2 separate regions of the Homo sapiens genome follow, and region 2 is linked to region 1. The links come from fine-mapping of genetic effects on gene expression. Tissue or cell type: whole blood. Region 1 holds a variant in brackets; the other region holds the start of a gene. All regions are shown on one strand. Distances are between the middles of the regions.

What was found. PIP is the estimated chance that this variant, and not a neighbour inherited with it, causes the effect.
Region 2: PITX1-AS1 starts here. The variant in region 1 is fine-mapped to the expression of PITX1-AS1 in whole blood (GTEx, PIP above 0.99).

What each region holds. Positions count from the first base shown.
Region 1 is chr5:135,435,293-135,443,394 of GRCh38, forward strand. No RefSeq gene overlaps it. Among named protein-coding and RNA genes, the nearest start is that of DCANP1, 8.0 kb to the right of the region's middle. RefSeq lists enhancers at 1-1,162, 1,987-2,146. The variant G/A (reference allele first, on the strand shown) is at 4,559.
Region 2 is chr5:135,028,566-135,036,667 of GRCh38, forward strand. It overlaps PITX1-AS1 (PITX1 antisense RNA 1), which reads left to right and starts at 4,709. Exons shown (of 6, transcript NR_161235.1): 1 at 4,709-4,975. PITX1 (paired like homeodomain 1) reads right to left here and starts at 5,663. Exons shown (of 3, transcript NM_002653.5): 1 at 5,148-5,663; 2 at 2,711-2,943; 3 at 1-756. The coding sequence starts at 5,316. The coding sequence ends at 214. RefSeq lists enhancers at 538-1,222, 4,547-5,179 and a silencer at 3,169-3,376.

The DNA.
Region 1 (8,102 bases):
AATTTAATTTAGAAAGTCCTGTCTCTGCGGCCCTGGTGGCCGTCGTCTGGGTGATTGACTGGCTGGTTTCTTTCACCTTTGCACGTCTTGGGTTTTTACTGGCAGAGGAAATGAAGGCTGAACTGGGGCAGGAAATTCCATGTACACAGGTGTTTCTGATTAGCCCCGTGCACCTCACCCAGGGGCACAACCAGGGGCTGAGATGCCTGCATGAGCCCATGGGCCCCTCTCTGGCTTGGCAACTGTGGCAGCTTTGCATCTAGGGAAGGCTGGACAGGGCACTCACACCGTTGCAGGGCAGACAGAGGTGCCAACCAGTGGTCTGCTGCCTGGCCCTGGGAACCCGGTGACATTCTGCCATGGACACGAGATCACACAGCGCCCTTGGCCAGAACCACCCCAGCCTCTGTGTCTGCAGTGGGCTGCTGGTGGCACCAGGGCCTGACCTGGAGATTAGCATCGCCCTGAGGTGTGTTTACACATTGTAGCTGGCGCTTCATGTGGCTGACCTGCCCCCATTTTCACATCTTCAGAGGGGCTTAGAGATCCAAAAACCACCTCCTCCTTTACTTAAAGGGTCTCTGGAGGGGTCGGGGAGGGCAGCCCTGGGCTTGGCTCAAGATGGCCATCTGTAGCAGTGGTTTCAGAGGCTGAAGAAGCAGCTTTCTTCATCCCATACCAGCTTTTCACTGCCACTGAAGCATCCCACCATTGTTATTCACTGCCATGGGTAAAGGCACTCGGGGCTCCCGTTACACTTAGAGTATACCTGGAGGGAGGGGCATTCCAAGAAATGGCTCATGGAGACACACTGGCTGGCTCTGGGCAAATGTCCACTCCAACCCTACCCACCTTGGTTTTCCCATCTGTAAAATGGGCATCATAGGAACAAAGTCTGCTGGATCAGCACATGGATTAATGAGATAGTCTGCAAAACATCAGGCACATAGAGGATCCACAAAGCATGCAGCCCCTGGGAACATTCTCAAGGGAATTGTTCCAAAGAAAAAGTATTTGATGAATACTTTGAAGTATTACATTAACCATTGCAAAAACATTTTAACCAGTTAAAATGCTCATTGGTTAGTTATAGACTAAGGTGTATTGTGACATAATAATGTGTAACCAATAAGCTCAATATGACAAGGATGGAGCCATATGAAATTCCAAGAAATAACTGAGGAAAATGAGTCTGTGTAGCCTGATTACAACTGTGAGAAAGTGTGTACCCTGAGGAAGATTGGAGGGGCATGTAAGTAAATGTTTATTTAAATACATTTCAGTTATCCACGTAGTTAAATGCATATTAAAACACGAAAATTAAATAAGAGCAGAGACAGATATGAATGTGTCTAAGTTATCAAGTTCCTACTAGGAGAAGACTCCATGTCATCAGTCCAGGACAGAATGTATGTGGTCCCAAACGCTGGAGAAAAGCCTGTGGCTGAGCTTTTGCCCCGTAGGGAACACGGAAACAGTCAACAGAATGCATGTGGCCACCACACGAGGTTCTGGACTCAGACTGGGCATCCTGGGGATCTTGGAGGCTATGGGGCTAAGCCACCGTCATAGTAAGCCCCTTTTAACAGCCTAGGGCCTCATGTCTCCCCCTGCCCCTGTCACCTGGAGAGAGACCTGGGCTCCTGAGGAGGGGCTGGGAGTGGAGCCTCACCCACATCCTCAGGACTCTGAGTGACACTCTGCTGACCCTGTTAGCTGCAGAGTAAGAGAAATGTGTTTTCATTGCTGTTACGAGTTTCCAGGCTGGGCAGCGAGCAGCCCCTTTAGAAAGGACCTCTTGTTCTTAGTGAAACACAAATAAATGTCTGTCGTGTGGGGCTATGTGAGCTGGGAGGTGGAGGGGGCTAAATGGAGAACTCAGAGAGCTGGCTACCTTGTCCCTGGGCCCCTGCCCAGTGGGCAGCAAGGCATAGCCAGGGGCTGTCCCTCTCTCTCAGCAGACGGCCCATCCTTCAAGGTATGACTTCGTCCCTGCCCCGCTCAGAAACCCCTTCTGCCCAGACCAGCCTTTGTCAGGTTGAGCTCAGAGTCCTTCTGGAATCTGGATGTGGTCCTGGGTCCCTGGAGGGCAGAAGCTGGGCCTCACCATTTCTGTGCTGCACCCGCCACAGCCCCCACACCCAAGGCTCTCAGGATGAATCTCGGTACATTGCGACTGAATTGCCGTGGATGAAAATAACGGTTGGAATGGCAGCAGTGGCTTGTGAATTTCAATTCCTCTTCTAAAACCACTTGCAGATATTTCTGCTGCTTTCTTCCCCTCTCCCCTCCCCCCTCTTCCCTCCCCTGAAACAGGAATTATGAGACAGTAACGCACACTCCTTTTGCATTTGCGGCTCCTCTTGTGGCCATCGGTATGGTTCCTTCAGGGACTGAGCCTGCTGTGACTCACTTCCCAGTCCCCCAGGCCCCAGCAAGCACCATCAGATAGGAGGCTTGTCACCTTGGAGGGAAGGGGGCAAAAAGATAATTTCCAAACATTGAGGCCTTAATGTCGGTCAAGCACGGTGCAGAGTCCTTCACAGGCACCCCCATTTTATCCTCCCAGACACCCTGTAAGACCTGTGATACTCCTGTTTCACAGAAAGAAGAAACTGAGGCTGGGAGAGGTTGAGCTCTTGCCTAAGGTCACAGAGCCAGTAAGTGGTAGAGCTGGGATCCAGACTTTGGCTGTCTGAGACCGAAGTCTAGGCTTTTCTTTGCTCTAAATCCCTCAACTCAACTTCTCTTTTGTCTGAGGAATTCTAGGAAGTGTTGGTTCTGTTTCTCATCAGTGGGGCCTGATGCTCCCCATGGTCTCTGGGCACTTGCACGTCATCCCAGAGGCAAACCTTGGGTATGCAGAGCCTTGTCCCAGGGTCCAGGATGTTCAAGACCAGCTGGAATCAGATGCCTTCTGGCTCCTTGCCCTGCCACGTGGAAATGCCATTTGTAGTGAGCCGGCTGTCGTTGGAGAGCTGCCTTTAGGTGCAGTGAGTCAAAGGACCACATGGAAATACTTTAGCCTGAGGCGGCGCTAGGAGCAGCCCTGGCTTGTAGCCATGAACGGCAGCAGGTCCAATAACACTGAGTTCCAGGTATGCATGTTGCCAAGAAGGGAGAGCAGTTTGGAGACCGACCAGCTCCTCTGGCTCATGCAAAAGCCCCTACACAGTGCTAGGCACGTGGTGCTCAGTAAACATAGGTTCCCGTTCTCTGTGAGAGGAAGGCCTTGGCCCTGTGCACTGAGTGTCCTGGTAATGGAATGCTCTACGCTCTGGCTGTCTTGGGCTGGGGGAAGAGGGAGAATCTACACCAGGAAACCATAGGCTCCTGAGGTTGAATGCAAGTTGCGTGTGTTCCTATGTGCAAAGAGAAGCCATAGCTATCATTTTCTGAGGTGTCCAAGACCCACAAAAAGCCAAAGACTGCACTACCCGAGAGACTGCAGCAGGAATGAGTGGATTAAGCCATTCAGCATGTCCAGACATACAAAATCACTGGGGACAGCTGGCTGAGGGAGACAGGCCAAGCTAGCACACGCATGTGAGGAAGAGGAATGGGCACTCAGGCCAGGCCAGCTCTCTGAGCAAAATGGAGCTCCTTCACGCTTCCCTTCCCGGCCTGACCACACAGGCTGCAGAGCACAGGGGCCCGCTTAAGGCCTTCAGGGAAGATGGCCTCCCCCAACATCATCTGTGAACCTCATCTCCAAGCTCAGAGCTTCCTCCCAGGTGGGGTTGCCCCTTCTCAGAGCTCCAATTTCCCCATCAGCCTTGGGCCGTATATCTTCCCCTTCTTTCTACGGGCTGCTTTATAGCTTGCTGGAAACACCTTCCCTTAGCACTTCGAAATGTATCACTTGAAAGCATCTTAACGTTAATCAATGTGATTCTTTTTTAATTTGAAGGGGCTTATTTCTCCAAATGGCTTTCCTGATCTTATAGGAGGGCATGCTCTCTAATATTAAACTTTTTCTTTAAAAAGAGCAAAAAAAATGACTCACATCTGTTTGATATTTAATTCAAATTGAATGGCAGGACAGGAACGAAATTACACTGCAAAGGGCCATAAAGCGTGATGTTTAAAAGAGCCAAGCATACCAAACCTACATGCCAGAAAATTTGAAATGACAAAGGATTGAGGGGGTGTGGCCTGGGCAATGGAGTATCTCCTACCCAGAAGCTGGAGGGGAAGTAGCCAAGCTGGGGGAAGGTGGGAGGTGGGAGAAGGTCTCATTTTGCACGGGAGGACTTTGTGGGGGCTGGTTTCCAGCCACATGTGAGTTTGGGGGTCTGGGATCTGAGCCCCAAGCAGAGGTCCTGGAATCCAGTGCTGGCTGCTCCATGTTGCGGGGCGGGGTGGTGGCCTGTCTGGGGATCTCCAAGGGGCTGCTGGGTAACGCTGCATGCAGCCTGGGTGGTCAGCCAGGCACTGTCCAGCTCTCGGTGTCCAGGAGGCCTTGGGGTTTGGCTACAGCTCAGAGAATTGAGTTTAAAGCCCTTCTGCTGCCTTCTGATCAGTTTAGCAGAGACACCAACATCCTGTGTCCCAGAGG[G/A]CAGAGAAATGGGTGGATCTCAGAGAGCTGTGTTTTCCTCCAATCTTGGAAGGAAGGCACCCTCTGAATGTCACTGTCCCCGAGCTCTGTGACAGAAGTCCTAGGAAAGAAGTGAGTGTGACCTCTTACTTAATATTCCCTTAAAGCCAGAGGGCCAAGTCCAGGCCTGGCACAGGCACTCCAGTTGTGAACCGTGTCTGGCGATGCCTGTAAGGTGAGCTTTGACAGTGGAGTGCAGTCAGAGCTTGTGTGCTGGTGTGGGCTGCCCCTCACCAAGGCCACGAAGGGAGGGGTGGAGACAAGAGAGGGGTTTAGAGTAAATCAAATGCCAGCTGAGTGGGCTTGGCCTCCCTTTCCCTCTCTGATCCTGTTTCCTCATCTATACCATGGAATGGTTTAACATCCTCAAAGTTATTTTAAATATCTAGTATGATAAATATAAATGAATTCACTTTTAAATAACAAAATATTGTACGTGTTTCTTAGAATGGTAACTCTGGCCTTTCCAGGGCTTCTGCTTAGGTACCAAGTTTATTTCCAAGACATTAACTTGTTTTTCCAGCCAGCACTTGAGCACAAGGGTCTGGAACTTTTTCCATGCAGTGGTGCGCTGGAACTGTCTCACAGTGTTTGATAAAAGCTGATTGTTAAATGATTAAATTATATTTAATGACTCATTAAACTGTTAAATTTTTAATGTAACTAAGTTATTAACAATTATATGAACTTATGGCAAAATGATATTAAATACAAAGTGAATAAATAAATCAAAACTCACTGCTTCCTAATTATTTTACTATACCTTACTATATCTATGGCCTTGGGGCTATTTACACTGATTGTATCTGTGTGGTGGGAATGCCACATGATGGTGGGCTTACTGTGTGTCTCTTTCCAATTCCACATTCAGTGATGTCATTTTGATACCTTGAAGTTGACTGTGGTAAGACAATTTACATCACGGACATCAGCAAACACTACAATCAGAGCGCCTCTGCCACTCAGAGAGCTGCTAAACATTTGTCAGCACAATTCTGTCTGTAGAGATGGGCAAAATGAAGTGTGCAGAGCTCCTGGTGACTTTCTCAGAATCGCTCAGCCATGCTGAACGTCTTCCTTTCAATCCAGTGCTTTCTTCATCAGACTTAGCTGTTCCAGCCTTCTCAGGAACTTGTGGCCAGCTCTTACGGCATGCATCCCTTTATCCAGAACACTCTGACCTTCCCAGCATGCTCCCCTACCATTCCTCTAGTGGGGTCGCTTCTCTGCTTCTGTTTTCCTCTGAGCTAAGCCAAAATATTCACTCCGGTGTGTAAAGCGGGCTGAGAATCTCAAGTGGAAGTATTTTCCCTTTCTATAACTGTGGAGCAAAACTCACAGCTCATAATTATCATGTGGTTTTCTAACCAACACTTTACCTGGGGTGCTTGACAGAGCCCAGAGGCAGGTGTGTGTGTGTATGTATGCATGTGTATATACATGTGTGTGTGTGCATGCAGGTATGTGTGTATGCATGTGTGTATGTATGGATGGATATGTGTATGCAGGGGTGTGTGTGTGTGTGTGTATGCGTGCGTGTGTGTGTGTGTGTGTTGGGGAATGGAGAGGGGAAGGAGAAGTCAGACCACATGAGGCTTTCTGATGTTTTGGCTTGAATTCTGCACTGCAACCACAGACCCTGTAGGCCCAGGGGAAGAGGAACGTAAAACTGAAAGACAGAGACCCCCGAGGATTAGCTTCCTGCCTTGGCCTCCAAGAGTGTCCACAGGGGACGACCATGTGTTTCCCAGTAATGAGGCCCAGCGCTGGATCTGGAAGCCTCTAACGTCAAGCTTCCAGCCTGCCTGCTTCTAATACTCCCGGGGCAGCTCTCCAAGTTTGGGAGCTCTGGACCTTGTGCGTGTATTTCTGAGTGGGAAGGGCTGGGTGGTCGTGTCACACCAAGGAGACGAGGCCCATCTGGAAACAGGAAACCCTGTTGGCAGGTAGCAGAGGGATGGGGTGTGGGGCCCTGCGTGGCCCTGCTGGAATTTGCCATGGGCTTCCGGGCTCAGGGTCCCCTGGATACCGTGGTTCCATTCACTGAGCAAGACCGCTGACCCTTCCTCTTCTCACTCAGGGCACTTATTTATTTAAAATATATTTTCCCCTTTTTGTCAGGAGCTGTATTGTGGTTTGACTGAGGTTCTTCTCAGAGCTTTGACCCTAGTGGTCTGCTTTCACCCCACCCAAATTCTTCCTCTCAACTCTCTCTCCTGTCAAGAGAGCCCTGACTGAGGACCTACTGTGTGTAGGTGGCTGCTCACCTACAGACATGTCCAAGACGGCTTCTGCCACAGGCAGGGCTCTGCCTGCCAGTGGGAGGTTCCAGCCGACTGGCATGTGAAATGGGCCCAGCCCTGCACCTGGCACACTCATGTTGTGTTTTTCATCTTCACAGAGGTGAGATAGGTACTCATAGTATCCCCATTGTATAGGTGAGGGAAAAGTGGCTTGGGGGAGGAAGGAAGTTTCTGGATTCTGTAAGTGGAAGGCAGTGGGATTTGGGCCTGTTGGCTTCCTGAGGACAGGTGTCTCTGCCCTGCCCTCTGCCTATCTCGGGAGCTGGTGTTCAAAGCAGGGCATCTGGGTGAGTTGTGTGTGGGTCCAGCCAGGCTGTACCTGGGTCTTCTCTGTGCTTCATCTGTGGTACTTGCCCTCCTCCCTCCATCCTTACAGATGCTGAAGGTCACATAGGTTGGGGTGACAATGATGGTGGGGACCTATGTTTGCCCCTCAGGAGTCCCTGCAGGGTGGAGTCCTCTGTGGTGTGGCCTCTCCTTCCTGCTCTCCCTACTTGGTGGCCACCCCAGGGCCCCAGGCGAGGCTGAGGGGCACTGACATGGCCATGGTCTCTGTACTGGCCATTTGGCTGTTTGTCGTCAGGACCGTGATTCTCTCTTTCATCCCCTGCTCTGTACTGCGGGGAAGTTGACCCCTGGAGGCTGCATTTCTCAGGCTTGCCAGTCAGCTTTCCTCTGGCTGGCTTCAGCCAATGGGGTTTGGGGGGCCAAAGAAGGAGAGAAGCCAACGTATTCATTCCTCTGTCAGCCTGTCAAGTGGAATCACCTCATCAGCTGCTGGCGGCAGCTGCCTCTCCTCTGTGGCTCCTCTCCCTCTAGGTCCCAGCTACCATAGGGGGCCTCCATGGTATTCTAGCCCTGGGCTGGACATTCCCCACTGTGACTCCAGTAACACCCCCTCTCAGTTGCGCTCCAGCCTGGAGCCAGCAGTGGGAACAATCTCTGTTAATCTCTGAATTACATTCCCTATTTGGCTTCTCAGTGATTCCCTACCCAATTCCCTGAATTACATTTTTTGCATACTTAGACTGGCTTTTGTATTTCTGACTGGATCCTGAATGATAGGCCTCCCACTGAACAAGGTGACTTAATAGGGTCCATGTTCAGCCCATCTGTAGCAAGCCCTCTGAGCAAATGACATCATGACAGCCCCTGATCCCTCAGAGAAGCAATTATGGAAACCTCGTGTCTGGCTGCCTGGC
Region 2 (8,102 bases), 410 kb before region 1:
TTTTTTTTGTCTTTTTGGAGGGCAGAGTGGGGTCCGGAAAAGCAAACACAAAACCAACCCGGAGTGGGAAGTGGGAGGAGGGGGCTGCGCAGGTGTGAGGTCCGCGGCGCGGTGAGCTGGGGCTTGCGAGCCGGGGCCCCGCGTGCGTCCTCCGCGCCCGCGCCCGCGCCCTTCCCCGCTCCGGCCGCCGGCCCGCGTGGTGCGGCGGGGCGGTCAGCTGTTGTACTGGCACGCGTTGAGGCCCGAGGCCGGGCCCTGCAGGCCGCCGTAGCCAAACGACGAGTGCTGTTTGGACTTGAGCCGCAGGCTGGCTAGGCTCGAGTTGCACGTGTCCCGGTAGACGCTGTAGGGCGAGGCGGGAGTGCCGTACGGGCAAGCGCCCGGCGACATGGCCGAGTTGAGCGAGGAGCCGGTGAGGTTGTTGATGTTGTTGAGGCCCGAGTTGGGCATGCCAGGCACGGCGCCTGGGCCCATGCTGGACGGCATGGTCATGGAGGAGATGGAGCTGGGTGCTGAGAACATGGACTGCGACGACAGCGGGCTCATGGAGTTGAAGAAGGTGAAGCTCTTGGTGGAGAGCGGCGCTGGCGCCAGGCTCTTGGCGGCCCAGTTGTTGTAGGAGTAGCCGGCGGCGTACACGTCCTCGTAGGGCTGCACTAGGCCGCTGAACTGCGGCACGTAGCCACCCTTGCACAGGTCCAGCTGCTGGTTACGCTCGCGCTTACGCCACTTGGCTCGCCGGTTCTTGAACCAGACCTGGGGGAGGGGACGGGAGAAGGGTCAGGGCCGCTGCGGGCCGGGAGGGACCCCACCCCCTTCCCCACCGCCTGGAGCCTTCCGTCGGCCCGCTGCCCTCCGAACGTCGTTTCTCTCCTTCGACCGATATTTCCGCTCCTGCATTCCCTCCACAATGGTTCCTTTCCTGTCCCCAGAAAATACTAATTTCTTTTTCCGATCTTTATCCTCTCCCGAAATTATATCCGTTTTCTTCTCCGAATACGGATTCTCGTTTAACAGATATTCGTTTTCTTTCTTCCTCTCTCAACCAGTTCACCTCTGCCTTCTCCCCCAAACAGGTTCGCTCTATCTACTAAATATTTCAGTCTTTTTATTCTCCCTCAAATACAAAAGGTATTTTTCCTCCCTGAGACATAGGACTTTCCGACTCCCCCAATTCTTCGATCTATTTCATCGCTCAAATAGTTTGTTATCATCTTTATCGGCAATATTTGATGTTTTCTTTTTGGCTCCAAATGTTTATTTTCGTTCAGTCCACCCCACTGTCTGAACCTCTTTCTTCTCCCTCAGTCTGTTTTCTTGTTTATCCCCCATTTTTGATCCTTTTGAATCGTCCTCAAATATTAGGCTTTTGAATCCTTTCCAAATATCTGACCTGCACTGTTCCCCTTAAACAGTTGATTCTTTTTCTCAAATACCTGATCTTTTTGCTTCCTATTTAATTTCTTTCCTGCCGCCTAAATATATGCCAAATATGTTTCTCCACAAATATTTAAATTTTTTCTATTCTTACTAGATTCTTCTAATCTTCCTGCCCTTCCTTTTCTCCCCCCAAATTTGGTAAGAACCTCCTAGTCCTCCCCCATCCTTACCTATCTGCCTACCGCATGCCCTCTGCCCACTCGGATTTTCCTCCAGTTCTGAGTGGAGTTTCCTGAGCTAGTTTGCCAGATCCCTGCTTCTCAGCTTTCCCTAGTCCCCAGCACTGACACTACCTGATTCCACCCCCACCCACCCCTACCACCATAAACCTGGGCAGGATTAGTGAGTTCAGGATTACTGAGTGCTGTGTCTTCATTCCAAGTCCCACTGGGCTGGCCAGCCTGCCTAGGGAGGGGTGAGGGCTGGGGTTATGGTAAGGAGTCTGTGGGCCAGCTGGGATTTTGGTCGACTTGGGAGGTGCTCCCAATATCTGATTAAATATTTACGCCCCCAGGGAAGAAATGATTCTCTTGCTACCCTGGCAGGAAAGCCTTGCTTTTACTGGAAACCAAACGGGTGAGAAGAGGGAGAATGCAGGCTGGTCTTGGGTCTGAGATGGCATATCCTAAAAGGGACTGGGAAGGACATTTGGCTCCCGGAGCCACCCCCCACCTCACCTGACGGGAGACCTTCCGGAAAGGGCAGAAGGCAAAGGGTCCTACTGATGGCTGGGGAGGGTGGAGAATATCTTGAGCTTTTAGAGAATCTGCTTATGAGATGGGACCACTGCTCCAGGAAGTTTTGAGAGCCCCAAACCCAGGCACCTTTCAGGCTTCTCCGAGGCAGCCAGACAGGACCTGCCTTTCCCTTTCGTTTTCGGGATAAGGCCAACAGCTCCCGAGGTCCCCAGCGGCAGGGAATCCACTGCCCAGTCTCTGGCCCAGGGTATCCTGCTAACATCTGAGTGGGTCCTGGGCCCCATAGGGCATGGGGGAGTCCCCTGGGGGCACAGGTCTTTGGGCTGGGGTTGCCTTAGTCCGAGGATCAGGTAGGATGAGGGTCAAAGGGGTTGAAGGTCCGAGGCGCCTGGAGGCCTGGCAGACGCTAGTGGGCCAGGGCCTAAGGTGGGGATCTCCGGTGGAGGGAGGGAGCAGGTCTGAATGGTGGGAGAGTGAAGTTCTGCTTGTGGGTCTAAGCTTTGGAGGGCTGCAGCAGAGGCGGCCCGGGAGCCCTCTGCGCGGGTGCCCTTAGGCGCGCACCCCTTGCTCACCCGCACGCGCGGCTCGGTGAGGTTGGTCCACACGGCGATCTCCTCCCTCATGCTCATGTCGGGGTAGCGGTTCCTCTGGAACGTGGCCTCTAGCTCTTGCAACTGCTGGCTTGTGAAGTGCGTACGTTGCCGCCGCTGCTTCTTCTTCTTGGCTGGGTCGTCTGCGCCGCCGCAGCCCGTGCCTCCCGCACCACTGTCCTCGGGCCCCTTGGGTTCCCCGCCGCGCTCCTTCTCTGCAGTAGGCAGGACGGGGAGCGGGTCACCTGGGCTTACGCCCCGTTGCACCCCGTCCCGGCTCCACCGAACCGCTCGCCACCAGCGCTGGCGGTCTTCCCTCCCTCCCTCCCTCTAGGGTTCCTGGGAACTGTCCCCACTGGAAAGCGCCCGCCGGGTGCTGGTCGTCAGTAGGCACCTCTAGTCTGGTGTGCCGCGGAGAAGAGCCCAAGAATCGGAGCTGGAGCCGCGGGCCTGCGTTCCTGGCTGGGCAGGGCCTGCACCCTTAGCTCGGCTCAGATTCTGACCCTGCTGCTGATGTTCCCAGCAAATGTATGCTTTTTGTTTGTTTGTTTTGCGAACTCTTAGGGGGTCTAAATCTGAGGGGGTCTCTGCTTTTCTGAACTAGGATCAGATCTCTCCAGCCTAAAGTCCCTCCACTTTCTTCTCCTCAGGGGTGTATGGGAGCCCCACTGGGCAGGCACAACACAGCCGGGTTCTCGGCCTTGCTTCCAGGCCTCCAGTCCCAAAGCCTAGAAAACCCCACCAACTGCAGCCCAGACAGACAGACTCTGTCTAGGTGACCTCGGGCTTTAGTCTGTCTCTCTTTGAAGCTACACAAAACACACGCAGTCATAGAAACATTAATACATAAAGAAAAAGAGTTTAAAAACAAAACACAGAAGCCCAGAAAAGCTCACAGCTCTATGCCTAAAGACACTGAAAGGGCCACAAATTCTCAAAATCAGACAGGAAGAAACACAGAGCAAATGTAAATTAAGAAGCCAGAAAGCTCCGTACAAACACACCCCTAACTAAATACAGAGCTGTAAGTGTATAAACTCCAGGTTGACAGAAGCATTTATTTCTCTGGGATTTAAAAAAATAATGTACCGTTGTAGATAGATTTTTAACTCCTTCCCAATAAGGCCCTTGTAGAGATAATTTTTAAATCCCAGAGAAACACATTATAGTTAGATAATTTAAATTCCCCAAATAACACCACTGTAAATGGATTTTGAGAAAATTCCGGAGAAACGCGCCATTTTGGATTGACTTTTTAAAATCTCCGGAAGAATAATGTTGCATGTAGATATTTTAAATTCCAGACCTACACTTCGTACGTTAATTCTTTCAGAATCGAAAGATACAGTTAAAATTAATTCATCCTCATAGATTTGGTTCAAAAAAATCAATATACGATTATATATCTCTCTAGGTTTTAAAAATAAAACCAACCAAAGACCGCGCTTAAAACTTTTGAAAACAAAAGTAGAGTTCAGCGTTGATTATGTTTTAACCAAGCAAACAACCTCTCAGAAAAATCACTTAGGGATGCAAAAGAGAAACAGATACTAAGAAAGTGGAGAGAAACATTCAGCTGTGTATTAAGAAATGAACGCAGAAGAGGCGCCCACACCGGGGAGCTCGGAGCCCCTCCGGAACCCGGCCGGCTGCGCTGGGCAGCGGATTCGCTGCCCCACTGCCCGCGCCGGCCACCCGCGGGCCCAGTTCGCTGCTGGAAAAAAGCTCCAGCTCGGACAAAAAAAGGCAGCGCGGAGGGAGACGCGCAGGAGCCGGGGCGGGGGCCAGAGCCGGGCTGCTCCGGGCTTCGGCCGCGCACGTGGGCCGGATCCCTTGATCGGCGTTCCGGCTGGCCTTGCTGGGAGTCCGGCCGCGCCTGTTGGCCCGCTCGCCCTCACCGTCCTCTGTGTCTCCCTTCTACTTGATGACCCCTCTCCCCCCGTTTACCCTTCCCGCCCGCCCCTTCTCTTTGGTCTCTTTCATTCTGTCGCCTACTGTCACGGTGTTAACCTCCCTCTCTGTCTCTCTGAGTGCGTTCTCTCGCCCGTCACCCCTCTTCCTTTCTCGGTCTCCTCCTCTCCCTTCGTCCGAGCCGCTCCTTAGCGCCCAGTTGCGCAAATCAAATTCTTTCCCGTTCTATTTACTCCTGATCAAGAGGGGCTGTCAGTCCAACCCTCCAGCTGTAGGCTCGTGCATCTGCCAGTCTCTTGGCGCGTGGGGACCGCGTGGAAGTGCCTTCGCGTGTGCGTAAGTTTCCGCGTTCACCGTCAGGTCGAGAACGGGAAAAAGAAAGCTCCTGACGCTTCTGGGGCGGAGAGGGAGCTTGGTTGCGCGGCGCGGGCGTCAGGCCCTGCTCCCAGCTCCCCGTGCTCCGCGCCCGGGTAGGCTCTGTGCGCGCCGCGCGGGGAACGGCGCTTACCTGGCAGCTCCGTGTCAGACGACTCGCTGGCGGAGTTCTCGAGCGGCTCGCGGGGGTCGGCGGGCCGGGCCAGGTGGAAGGCGGGCCCCATGTCATGGGGTGGCGGCGGCGGCGGCCGGAGCCCCTCCGGCAGCCGCTCCAGGCTCATGCCCCCCTTGAAGGCGTCCATGGAGGTGGGGACCGCGGCGGGCGCTCCAGGGGCCGGGGCTGGGCGCGCCCCGCCGCCCTGGCTGCGACCTGCGGGGACAAGAGCGCAGCGCCTAAGCGGCTGCCCTCCAGGGCTGCCGGCGCCTGCAGCGACGCCGTGCCCGCCCCATGGACCGCCCGGGGCTGCGGCGCCGGGCGGGCAGAGGCGGCGGCAGCTTCTCGCGACTGGGCGCCTGGCTCAGCGCTCCGCGCTGCGCTCCTGCCGCTCGGGCCTCAGCAGCCCGGCCGGCCCCGGCTCCGGCTCCGGCTCCGGCTCGCGATCCGGGGCCGGTTTCTAAGGCTCCGGACGGCGCCGGCAGAGTCTGTCTTAAAGCGACAGCGCGCACAGCCAGGTTCCAGCAGTCCCTGCGCCAGGGGTGCTGGGTGGGGTGGGCCTGGGTGGGAGGGGGCTGGGGAGGGAGCGAGCGAGCGAGGGAGCGCGGGCGGAATCCAGCCCCAAGCCGCCCGCGCCGCCGCGCCCTCACTGCCGCCCTCCCTCCCTCCCTGCCTCGCCCGCGCCCTCCCCCTCCGCAGCCACCTTCCCGCCGCCTCCCCGCCCCCCGCGGCCTCGCCGCGCCTCTCCCTCCTTCCCCGGTGACACACCGAGTTCTCCCTCGGCCTCACAAAAGAAACGCATCTGGCCTGCGAGTCCCGGGCGGCTCGTGCACACCTCAGGCCTCAAATGACTTGTTTCGCCTAGAATCAACTCCCGTCTCGGCCGCCTCGAAGTCCCCAGCCCTGGCGAGAACAGCCCAGGATGAGTGAATGTTTGCCGAACAGGATCGCACCGAGCGGGCGCCTTCGAGCCAGCGCCGGGGCGGGGGCAGAGCCCGGGGCCCGTTCCGGCAGCTCCCAGCGGTGTCCTCGTCGAGGGGCCGCCTGCCCCTCCTTCTCCAGCCTCTTCTCCCGGGAACTCAGCCCGGCTGAGTGACAGCAGCCTGCGCTCTAATGGGCCCCCGGATGCTGCCTCCTAATTAGCTTGGACCTTCTCCCCTACGGCTGCTTCTCAGGCCTCCCTCTCTGCACCGCAGTCAATTTTCCGGGATTGGGATAGAAATGATGGCTTCTAATCAGACGAAACGTTTCTGCTGGCTCTAGGCGTTTGGAGAATGCAGAAGGAAGACCCCAAGGATCCCAGCCAGACCCCACAGCCTCTTGTACCTCTCCCCTTGTTTTACACCTTAGGCCTTGGCCAAATGGGCCAGGCCTGGCCTTGGCAGGCATGGGGTTGGCCTTGGCAGCCTTTGCCCTCCTTCAGGGTAGCTTTGTCCCAGCCTGGGGCCTGCGTCCTGGCTTCCCAGGGCTTCAGGCATAGGCCTGGTAAGCCAGGTGACTGCTGTCTCCCAACCCTGGGCCAGCAGCCCAGGAAGCCCTCAGTCTTCCAGCTTCTCTCCCACACAGTGGTAGCTGAGCTGCAGCTCCAATGGGCCTTCACTGGGCACAGGCAAAGACATTACTCTCCCACTCCTAAGAGTGATTCCCTCCTCGAGTCCTTGCACGTAGGTGAAGTTTGTCGAAGGATTTTGCTCAACAATTGTTAGCTGGCCCCGAGACCTCAGCGTCTTGAGCAAACAGGCCACAGCTGGGGCGGCAAGGCGCCGCCCTGACCTGCTCCTCTGGCCATAGGCGGACCCCAGACTGCCCTCTGCCCCTCACCTGTGATCAGCTCCACCAGACACAGCAACCCAAGGGAGCTGCGCCAGGATTGTCTGCCTGGGAAAGAAGCAGGGAGGTGTCCAGTGTCCTCACCCCAAAACCCAGTGCCTCCTCAACTCCTGGGTGGGTGGCACTGACTGTGCAGGTATCAGCGTCTGGGGCACTCTGCAGGTTCTGCCTTTGAGTCCTCGTCTTACCCCTTCCCATCACAGGGAGACACCCAGGGTCAGCTGAGCTCCTTGTGGGGGCTGCTGGGGCCAGGGTCGGGCATGCAGGGTGGAACCAGGCCTGCCTTCCATTCCCTCCACGTTAGTCCAAAGCACCCCCACCCCTACCCCCATCCCCATCCCCATCCCCATCCCCATCCCCATCCCCATCCCCCGCTCTGGGCCGTGGAGAGACAGCACAGCTCCTTAGGGCCTGGTCCTTTCTCACTGTGGGTCTGTGACCACAGGATGCAGGGTCTGAGGCCAGAGGGAGGACACTTCTCAGGGGTTTGGATTGGGGAGGCTCAGTGACTCCTGCCTTCTTCCAAGCTGAGATCTCCCTCCATGAAATGAGTCTTGGCTACGGGGAGGGGAACATGGGGAAGCACAGTTGCCCAGCATTTGCCCTCAGCCCCACCGTTGCCATGTTTCTTGGCCACCTTTACCACGAGTCTCCTGCAGTAGAAGATCCCTCCTTTCAAGGAGATATTCAGGTGTTGCAGCGTGCTAGGGAGTGTCCCTTCACAGACCATTCTTTTTTTAGCTGTCTTACCAAAAAGAACAGCCTGAATGCAGACAGCATGGGGGCACGCACACACACACACATCCTGTACATCCATGCGGAGATGCTGTACACACACATGTATTCACTGCACTATGGAAGTGCTGAGTTTAGGCATATATGTGCTACTTGGCATGAACGCGGGCTGGCAGGGGATAGGAGGTGTGTTCTAACCCTGCCACATGTCAGGCCAAGGTGGGAAGCACAGTGCGTCTCTGGGTAGAGACTTAGAAATGAATGGTCTGTCTGTGGGCCTCTAGAGGAGGTTAAGACTCACAGCCTTCTCACTTGCCTTCTCACTTCCCAGAGGGACCAAAGTGACTCTTTGGGCCATCCCCCAATGGG